Regions from separate parts of the Homo sapiens genome. Here region 1 is linked to region 2. The links come from fine-mapping of genetic effects on gene expression. A gene starts in region 2. The other region holds a variant in brackets. All regions are shown on one strand. Distances are between the middles of the regions.

What was found. PIP is the estimated chance that this variant, and not a neighbour inherited with it, causes the effect.
Region 1: its variant is fine-mapped to the expression of ASB4 in tibial nerve (GTEx, PIP 0.93).

The regions. Positions count from the first base shown.
Region 1 is chr7:95,394,798-95,399,202 of GRCh38, forward strand. PON3 (paraoxonase 3) reads right to left here and starts at 1,578. Exons shown (of 9, transcript NM_000940.3): 1 at 1,480-1,578. The coding sequence starts at 1,553. It overlaps LOC107986822 (a long non-coding RNA gene), which reads left to right and starts at 1,675. Exons shown (of 2, transcript XR_007060439.1): 1 at 1,675-2,231. The variant T/C (reference allele first, on the strand shown) is at 2,644.
Region 2 is chr7:95,483,530-95,487,934 of GRCh38, forward strand. It overlaps ASB4 (ankyrin repeat and SOCS box containing 4), which reads left to right and starts at 2,414. Exons shown (of 5, transcript NM_016116.3): 1 at 2,414-2,629. The coding sequence starts at 2,443.

The DNA of each region.
Region 1 (4,405 bases), 89 kb before region 2:
GTTGGTTAACTATCTTTATCATAATTTATGAATGACATAACAAGTAAGTAGGTACTTCCTTTCATGTTTATTTACATAATGTAGACATTATGTGGGTATTTTACCTATATCAGCTAACCTTACCCAGTTATTGCTGAAAAACTGTATAATATGATTCAACATGGAAAATTCTGCTGCCCAAATAAAAGACACTATTTAATAGTATGAGTAATTGAACAATATTATTAATTTAAATGCACGAAATAGCCCTAATTTTCTAAAGTATCGTCTGTTATAAATCTGCACTTAATCCCCTACAGTCTTGCCCTTTGAACTTTTCCTTCCAAACTGCTTTCCCAAAATTCAACAGGGTCTCCTAATAGTCAAACTCTATCACTTTTGCTTTAATTTTTAAATTTTATGCTGACTTACTCCGCAAGTATGTAAATTCATTAAACCAACCACAATTTAAACAATTGGCCGATTTATTTTTCAACACAATTTTCTTGTTTCCAGAGTGAAAAGGAATGTTTCCACATTCTTCTAATATCAGGGATAATTTAAAATTTTTATTAAAGTATATTCAGAAAGACTCAATACTTATCTTACAGTCATTTATTTAAAAAAATACCCTTAGATCTACTTTATTATTATTACTATTATTTTATGATTCTCCATGTGGTTGCACTGGGAGCAAATGTAACAATAAAACTCTCAAACTGGAAGTATTACTAATAGGCACCAGGCACCTCAACAGATTCTAGACGTGATCCTCTAAGAAGACCAGCTTCAACTAAGAGAAATACATAAACACTCAAAGACAACTGAAAGCAAGCAGAGGCTTTCGATCCACTCATGAATGTGTATTATCACTTAAAGGTTCTTCTTTCTAGCCCAGTATTGACTTTTCCTGAGACATTTCTAGGCTGGCTATCACCATTGTATCTTCCACTTCAAAAGGTCAAATGCCTACAAAATGCCAGTTACCGCCTGCAGGTTTCAGCTGGTTTGCCCTGCTGTCTGGCCAGCTCTTTAAATCTAGGATAGGTTCCATAACCCAGTACTTCTGCATGGTTAGCCAGACCTGGGCAATGTCTCAGTCAGCCGTAAACATCCAACTGGTAGCCTGATCCTCTCTCCCAAGTCCGGCGTTTCCAATGGACGTCCTTTTTTCCCAAGCAGAATGTTGAGGGCGAGCTGGGAAAGGGGTCATCACGTTCAGAAAGTAAAAGGGGGTCATGACCTTCAGAAAGCAAAGTGGGGGATCATAACCTTCAAAAAATAAATGGGACTAATTCGGCTCGGCAGTCTTTGGAAACGCAAGTAGCTCACTTTCCCCATAAGCGAGTCTCAAGGGGCGGTTTGCTGGGTGAGATGGAGGAGTGAGGTTCCAAAGCTGCTCTTTCCTACCCGCTAGGAAGGGGGCGCCAGGCAGCCCCTGACCTCACTTGGAAGAGGAGAGAAAGAGAGTCGAAGACGCCCTGTCAAGATGCCACTCACCTAAACGCCAGGAACATCTCCCCGACTAAGGACAGGCCGACCCCCAGCAGGACCAGCGCCACGAGCTTCCCCATGGTCTCGGGGTGCCCAGCGGCGACTGCGCGGCGCCGAGAGCTCTCGGGGGCGCGGCGGGCGGTTCCTGCCTCGCGTACGGATTGGGGCCCGCTCGGCCCCGCCCGCACACGCCTCCTACTTACCTGAGCGGCCCGGGTGCCGCAGCAGGGCGCTGACGAGTCCCGCCGAGCCCCGCCGCCCGGGTTCAAGGCCGCCTTCACGCCCACGATTCCTTGTTTTTTGGGCAGAGGTCAAGGCTCAACGGAGAGGGAGCCCGGGACCGAGTTGTGGTGGGAGTTTGCTCCTAACACCCGCGAAATCCTACCTCAATTCCTCAGATGGCCTGAGGGAGAAACCGGAGGGCCCGGGAATGGCGGGGAGCTCCAGTTCAGAGCCGGAACTCCGGACTTCTGCAAGGCCAGACGTGAGGCGACACTGAATTGCTCCCGAGACGCGGGAAGGGCGAAGGCAATCGAAGCGAAGAGCTTTAACTCATCTTCTCCAGGATTTGGGGCACGGGAACCTGTCTCCTGACCTTCGTGCCTTACCTCGGAGTGTGCTGCCCAGACGGACTTGTGAATAGCTGCGTCTGTCCCCATAGTTAACGGGAGAAGGAAACACCAGGAGAAAAGAAGGAAAAGACAGGAAACGGGAAGAGGAGCAGAGGCGAGGAAGGGGAAGGTCATTTCCTTGGCAGGGTAGGCCCTCTTTCTTCTAGGTCTTGAGTTCCTGCCAGGCAAGAAATGCTCTTTCCCCTCTCCTGATGAACACCAGGTTGGAGGGGGAGGAACTGAAGATGCGGGAAGACTTGGGGAGTTCGGGCAAAGTAGCACATTCAAGCATGATCTATTTTTATTTACGGACAGAAAGAAATATTAGTTCTGTTAGGTTCCACCGAGTAAACTATTTGTTGAGAGAGCAAGATTTGCCAATCCTGGGGGTATTAAGGAAAGAAAAGGTGGTCCCTGACCTATGGGATACATGATTCTAGTATGAATACGTAATTACAGGATGAATAATGAAGCCCACCGCTTATGCAGTACTGACTGTGTGCTTTGCCTGTGCTGACACCTATGTTAACGCATTTAATTATCAACACAATCTCTGGAG[T/C]GTGGGTAGCCTTACCCCAATTTTACAGGTGAGACCTGCAGCACAGATTGCTTATGTGGCTTGCTGTAGGTCAGGCAGCTGTCAAGCAGCAGACTCCAAAATCTGGGCCCTTAACTGAGCTGCCTCTACCATGCTGCCTCTAGAAAATCTATGGAAGAAGGGTTGTATTAAAAGGACAGTGTAACGTCTTGAATTGTATAGATTAGAGTTCTTGTTAAGATGACTAATGTTAAAAGAGTGCAAGCAGAGGAGGAATCGAAGTCAGGAGGGCTCACAGAGCTGAGGGGCCTGGGGTGTGATGTAGACATGCATGCAGGGTTTGGGAGTCAGGCTGCCTGGGTTTGGATCCAGCCTAGATAAAGTACTCAGCTTTATTGAGCTACAGATTCCTCTTCTGTAAAAGAACGTCCACCTCATAGGTAGCTTAAAATTAAATGTGATAATGAGTGTCAAGTGCTCTGCACTGTGCTTGATACGTTTTATGAAGTCAGTAAAGATTAACCACTAATTAATTCTGAACTTTGCTTGAGATTGTAGGCTCCTGTGGGAAGGACTCCATCGCATTGATCACTGGGTTTTCCCGTGCCATCCATAGAACTTTGTGCTTAATAATGACTCAATAAATATGATTAGATGGATGGATGTAAAATATGGACTTGGGAGAAAGAAAAATTAGAAGAATAAAAAATAAATGGAATGAATAATGAAATAATAATAGTCATATTATTATTTCACTCAGCGTTTGCATGCCTTGTCACATTACTTCTTATTAACCTTACCTACAAAGAAGTAAAGTGAATTGCTTGCTGCAAGTTTGATGGGACTAAAAAGAAGGAAAGTGAGGCTTTGAGGCTTAGAGAGGTAAAGTAATAATTCACTTAAGGTTACATAACTAAGTGTCAGTGCCTCCATCTGGACTCAGATCAGGTGACTCTAGAGCTCATGTTCCTTATCACTGTGTTTGCAGCATAGCATGAAGAAGGGGGTAAAGAAAGAAGCGTATTCTTGGGCAATTGATTGAAGTTCTGTGTTAGCTATAATTTGTTTAAAAATTCTTCACTTTAGGCAGAGGAGTCTCTGTGTGTGTGTGTGCATGTGTGTGTGTGTGTGTGTGTGTGTGTGTATACATTAACTTTAAACCCTAGAAGTGGTTAGTTTTTATTCGAATACCATAATCAGTAATTCAAATCCCCAGCATGGTAAATTAGCATTAAAGAATTCCAAACTTTGGAGGCCACTGTATCGAGTGTCACCATCTAAATCTGCTCTTGGCAATAGGCCAAATTGACTTGGTCAAGAGGCCACAGGTACATCAGTATTGTAAAAGGGGTTTGTTGACTTTGAAAGAGCAGGACAGATAAATTCAAAAGGCCTAAATTCAAGATCCAATTCCATTTGTAGTTGGCCCTTTAATCTTTTGAAATCACTTATCACCACCTCTGGACCCTTCTTTCCTTATATGTATAGTGGGGCTTTCAAAGAGCTAATGTAGACCAAATTCAATGCTATACGTTTAAACAGTAAGTAACACAATACTATATATAGATCTAGGGAGTCCCACACCATTGATAATCAAAATGCCATTAAGGGGGATGCAGAATATACATGTGGTATAATTCTAAGGTATAAAATTAGGGGAATTACATATTATCCACATATGTGTGTGTGTGTGTGTGTGTGTGTGTATATATATATATATATATAAACAATCTAGACATAAACTGAAGAGTAGTTACTTTGAGAGCAGAAGATTGGGGTCGTG
Region 2 (4,405 bases):
CACTGAGTTAGGTGGGGAGACCCATAATGGGGGATCAGATCAAATGATTAGATATAAACAAACTATATTATTTTTGTATGAAATTTAGTATATTTGCAGCTTTGTGACAAATTCTAGTGTATGGGAAATGGAGGCGATCTAGGGATTCCCATCGCCACTTAAATCTGTTAGTGAGCTAAGTTACACACGGGCAGGGATTTCTGTGTTTGTTCACTGCTGTATCTGCAGTGCCCAGAATAAGTGTCTGACAAATGGTAGATACTCGATGGGTATTTGTGGAAAGAATCATAACAATAGCATAAAACAGACTTGCAAAGTGCTCCCTAAAAATGCCAATACAATTTCAACAAAAGCAGTGTGTCACAGAGAGTCAGTTGGGAGCCAATCCCTTGGTTGAGGAAGTATTTCCATATATGGCTCTTTTTGTTGTTGCTATTTTTCAAAAATTATATAATTTAAAATCTTCAAAAATTGTAAAATGTTTAACATTAAAAAGTAAAAAAAAAAAAAAAAAATTGTCAGGCATAGTGGCTCATGGCTGTAATCCCAGCGCTTTGGATGGCTGAGGCAGGAGGTTCGCTTAAACTTAGGAGTCGGAGATCAGCCGGGGGAACATGGCAAAACCCTGTCTCTTCAAAAAAACACACAAAATTTAGCCAGATGTGCTGGTTGCATGCCTATAGTCCTAACTACTCCAGAGGCTGAGGTGGGAGGATGGCTTGAGCCTGAGAGGCAAAGGTTGCAGTGAGCCCAGATCACACCACTGTGCTCCAGTCTGGTGACAGAGTGAGATCCTGTCTCAAAAAAAAATAACAAACAAAACTAATCTATAGTATTAGAAGTTAAGATTTATTGTTATCTCTTTGAGGCAGGTGTTTTGATTAGAAGAGGACATAAAGGGGGCTTCAGGTAAACTTGAACTAGTCTATGGTTTAACCTCAATGTTGATTACATGAGTTTGTTCACTAAAAATTTGACAAGCTGTATACCTGTAACTTGCCAATTTCTTGCATTTATATTACACATCAATAAAATAAGTTTAAAATTATGTTGTGATTTGCATCATTTACATGCTTAAGTAAATTCTAAGAATCAAATAGTATCATTGTAAGTTTTTAAAAATTCATGTTTTTAATTATTCTGCAGAAAGTTTGCACCAGTTTTGACTTCCACAAACGACATATAAAAATGCAATTTATTTGCATTCTCTTTAGAACTTGCTATTATAATTTTCCTAATTTTTAATGATTTTATGTAAGAAAAATTAAGTGTATACTTTTCTCTCCAACTTTTTATTTGAAAAATTTCAAACTTACAGAAAAGCTGAAAGAATAATGTAATGGATACCAATATATCCCTTACTAGATTCACCAAGTCTTTAAGTTTTTGCCACACTTGCTATCTCTCTGTTTCTATTTACACACACATATATATATGTGTGTATATATGTATATATGTGTATATATGTATATATGTGTGTGTATATATGTGTATATATGTATATATGTATATATATGTGTATATATGTATATATATGTATATACACATACACACACATCTATTTATCTGTCTGCATTTCTGAGCTATTTTTAAAGAAGTTTTAGACATCATGACAATTTATCCCTTAATGTATCACTTAAGAGTAAGAATTTTTTTTACATAACCACATTTATCATTACACTTCTATATTGTCAAGTAATATCTAGTCCACATTTATAGTTCCACAATACTGTCTTTTCTAGCTGATTAAAAAACAGGATTCAATAAAGTTCATTCACATGTTGCATTTAAATGTTTTATCTCTTCAGTTTCTTTTTTACCTAAAAGAGTCCCTGCCCCGGACCGTCTCCCCACCTCCTCCCTTCCCAGCTTTTCATATTAAAATTTTTCAAGTCTAGGTCACTTGAAAACCTCCTGTTTGTCTTCAGATATGTATGACAATGGTTGATTTTACAAGCTCATATTGCAAAATTATTACAGGTTTTTAGAAGCAAATGTATCCACAACTGTAACAGATTTTCATTTTTGGATATTGGCTTGTCAGAGCAAGACGCTGGATCTCCAGCCAGGCACCAGATGTTTTTATTGAGGGGAAAAAAAGAGCATTAAGAGCTTTTAAATCTTATATTATTACTTTGATCATATAAGAAATAATTGTGACATTTCATGCCTGGAAATGTATCACGGGGGCTTTCGTTCATATTGACACTATATATTACTGAATGGATCAGTTAATATATAACCAGTTTAAAGGACCTGAAAATGTAGTGACAGCCAAGAAGGATATTTTGAAGTTTGAAATGATCCCTATATAAATAGAACGGATCAGCATAACTTTGGGATAAAATTAGCCGACAGTTTGTGGACTCTCCAGCATGCGCCTGTTTGCTCGGTGCTGTTCTCTCGATAAATCACAACAAAGCTTCCAGAGGGAGAGGAAGGATGGACGGCACCACTGCCCCTGTCACTAAATCTGGAGCTGCCAAGTTAGTTAAGAGAAATTTCCTTGAGGCGCTAAAGTCCAATGACTTCGGAAAATTGAAGGCTATTTTGATCCAAAGGCAAATAGATGTGGACACTGTTTTTGAAGTCGAAGATGAGAATATGGTTTTGGCATCTTATAAACAAGGTAAAAACATATAGGTGTTATTGTAGAACTGTTAGAAAATGATTTAAAAAAATGCACAGTGTCAGTTATCCACTCTAAACAGTAGTTTTTATTGTTTCTTTAAGTATTCATTTAAAAAATATTTCTAAATTGATATTTTCTTTCTTTTTAAACTAAAACACATTGTGGGCTGATATATATGTATAAGTCGTGTCTCTCCTTTTCTTTTCCCACCCTTGGGCCTAGGACTTGAAATCCCAGACAATCATTTTTAGCAATGCACTCTCTCTGTTTTTAACTTTTCTTCTGACTATGATGATATAGAAGGAAGAAAACATTTTTAGATTATGGCTAAGCAGATTGTTGAAACCCTATCTTAGACAATGTACCTGGTTTAAGAACACGCTGCTAATTCTCCATTAACAGCTACTTAAAGATATATCCTCTCTATGTCCATGTGGATGAAAAAGAGGAATCTCCCCAACATTTGGAGGGTTAATAAATGGATAAAGCGGTGCCACAGGCACCTTCATGGTCTTCTTCATTTTAATGAGTTTTCAGTTCAGGCACAAAAGCTGAATTCAGCAAAACCAAAAAGTTAACTTTTTTCCTGGACTACAATAATTGTTCAAAATTGTAGATGTGTTTAATACAGAATATCTGTCTTATAACGACCTAAGGAAAACAAAAATTAGACCAATTTTTTTTTACCAAGGAATTTTCTGGAACCCATGCTTAATAAATCAGAAATGAATTAGAGTTCCACTGATTCTGATTTCCCAAATCAACTGGTTAATTGGGGGAACGTGAGTAGTTAGATCATCTGGCGAGCATACTGCAAACATGCTGCTCAACATCACTAATGTTTAATACAATATAGATGCTAAGGTCTTGTGTATAGCATTTAGAGACAGTCATTATTTTAATGTTTAAAAATGATTTCTGGCCATCTATAAATCATCAGTATAATACATTTCCAGATACAAATGCTAATGGTACAGTATATATTTCTTCATTAATTTACTGTCCTCCGATTGTCAGTTCTGAGGGACATATAGAAGAGCTCAGGCTAGTTACTATGTTTATGATTTTTACTCAAGGGCTTTATAATATTTTGGCATTAATGGCATTAATATTTTGATGGGAAGACAAAGAAGGGATCTATTTTTTAAAAAGTTTATGGGGTCTGTTAGAAAATTTGTATACTATATAATCAGATTGCTTTCATCTTATAATTTTGTTCAGTGATAGAATGTCTGAATGCTAAACTAATTTTTAAGATGTTTTTAAAAAGCTTATATTTGTGCCTAGGGTGAAATAACTCAGGTTCAAGTCAGTGGGTAAGTTATTTGACCCTGAGTTGCAAAGACTGTCTTCTCTCATCTGAGCAGGCCAAGTTGCACAGATTGTGGGAAGTTTCTGAGGATATAAGAAACCAAGTTTTAGGTGCAGGCTCTAGGGAAGTGGAGGGGAGAGGTGGGGTTGGTTCTCCTACTTCCACCGGTGTCATCTTCCTTGAAGGAAAAGAAAATACATTTTAAATTCTTCTTGTCAATATGAGCTGACTCCTATGGTCCTCATAGAGCTAAATTTTCATTCCCACGAATTGAGGTGTTTTCATAGTGTTAGGACTGTGGGATGTGGCTTTCAATTAGGGAGATAGCAAATTACACCCTCTGGAAAAGGAAAAGAACAGTTCCATTCTTATGTATGCCAAGTGGATGCTTGCACAGAACTAGTAAAATTTGTGGTCTTACTTTTAGGGTTTATGCAGGAAATTTGTGTCTGCACTCATGT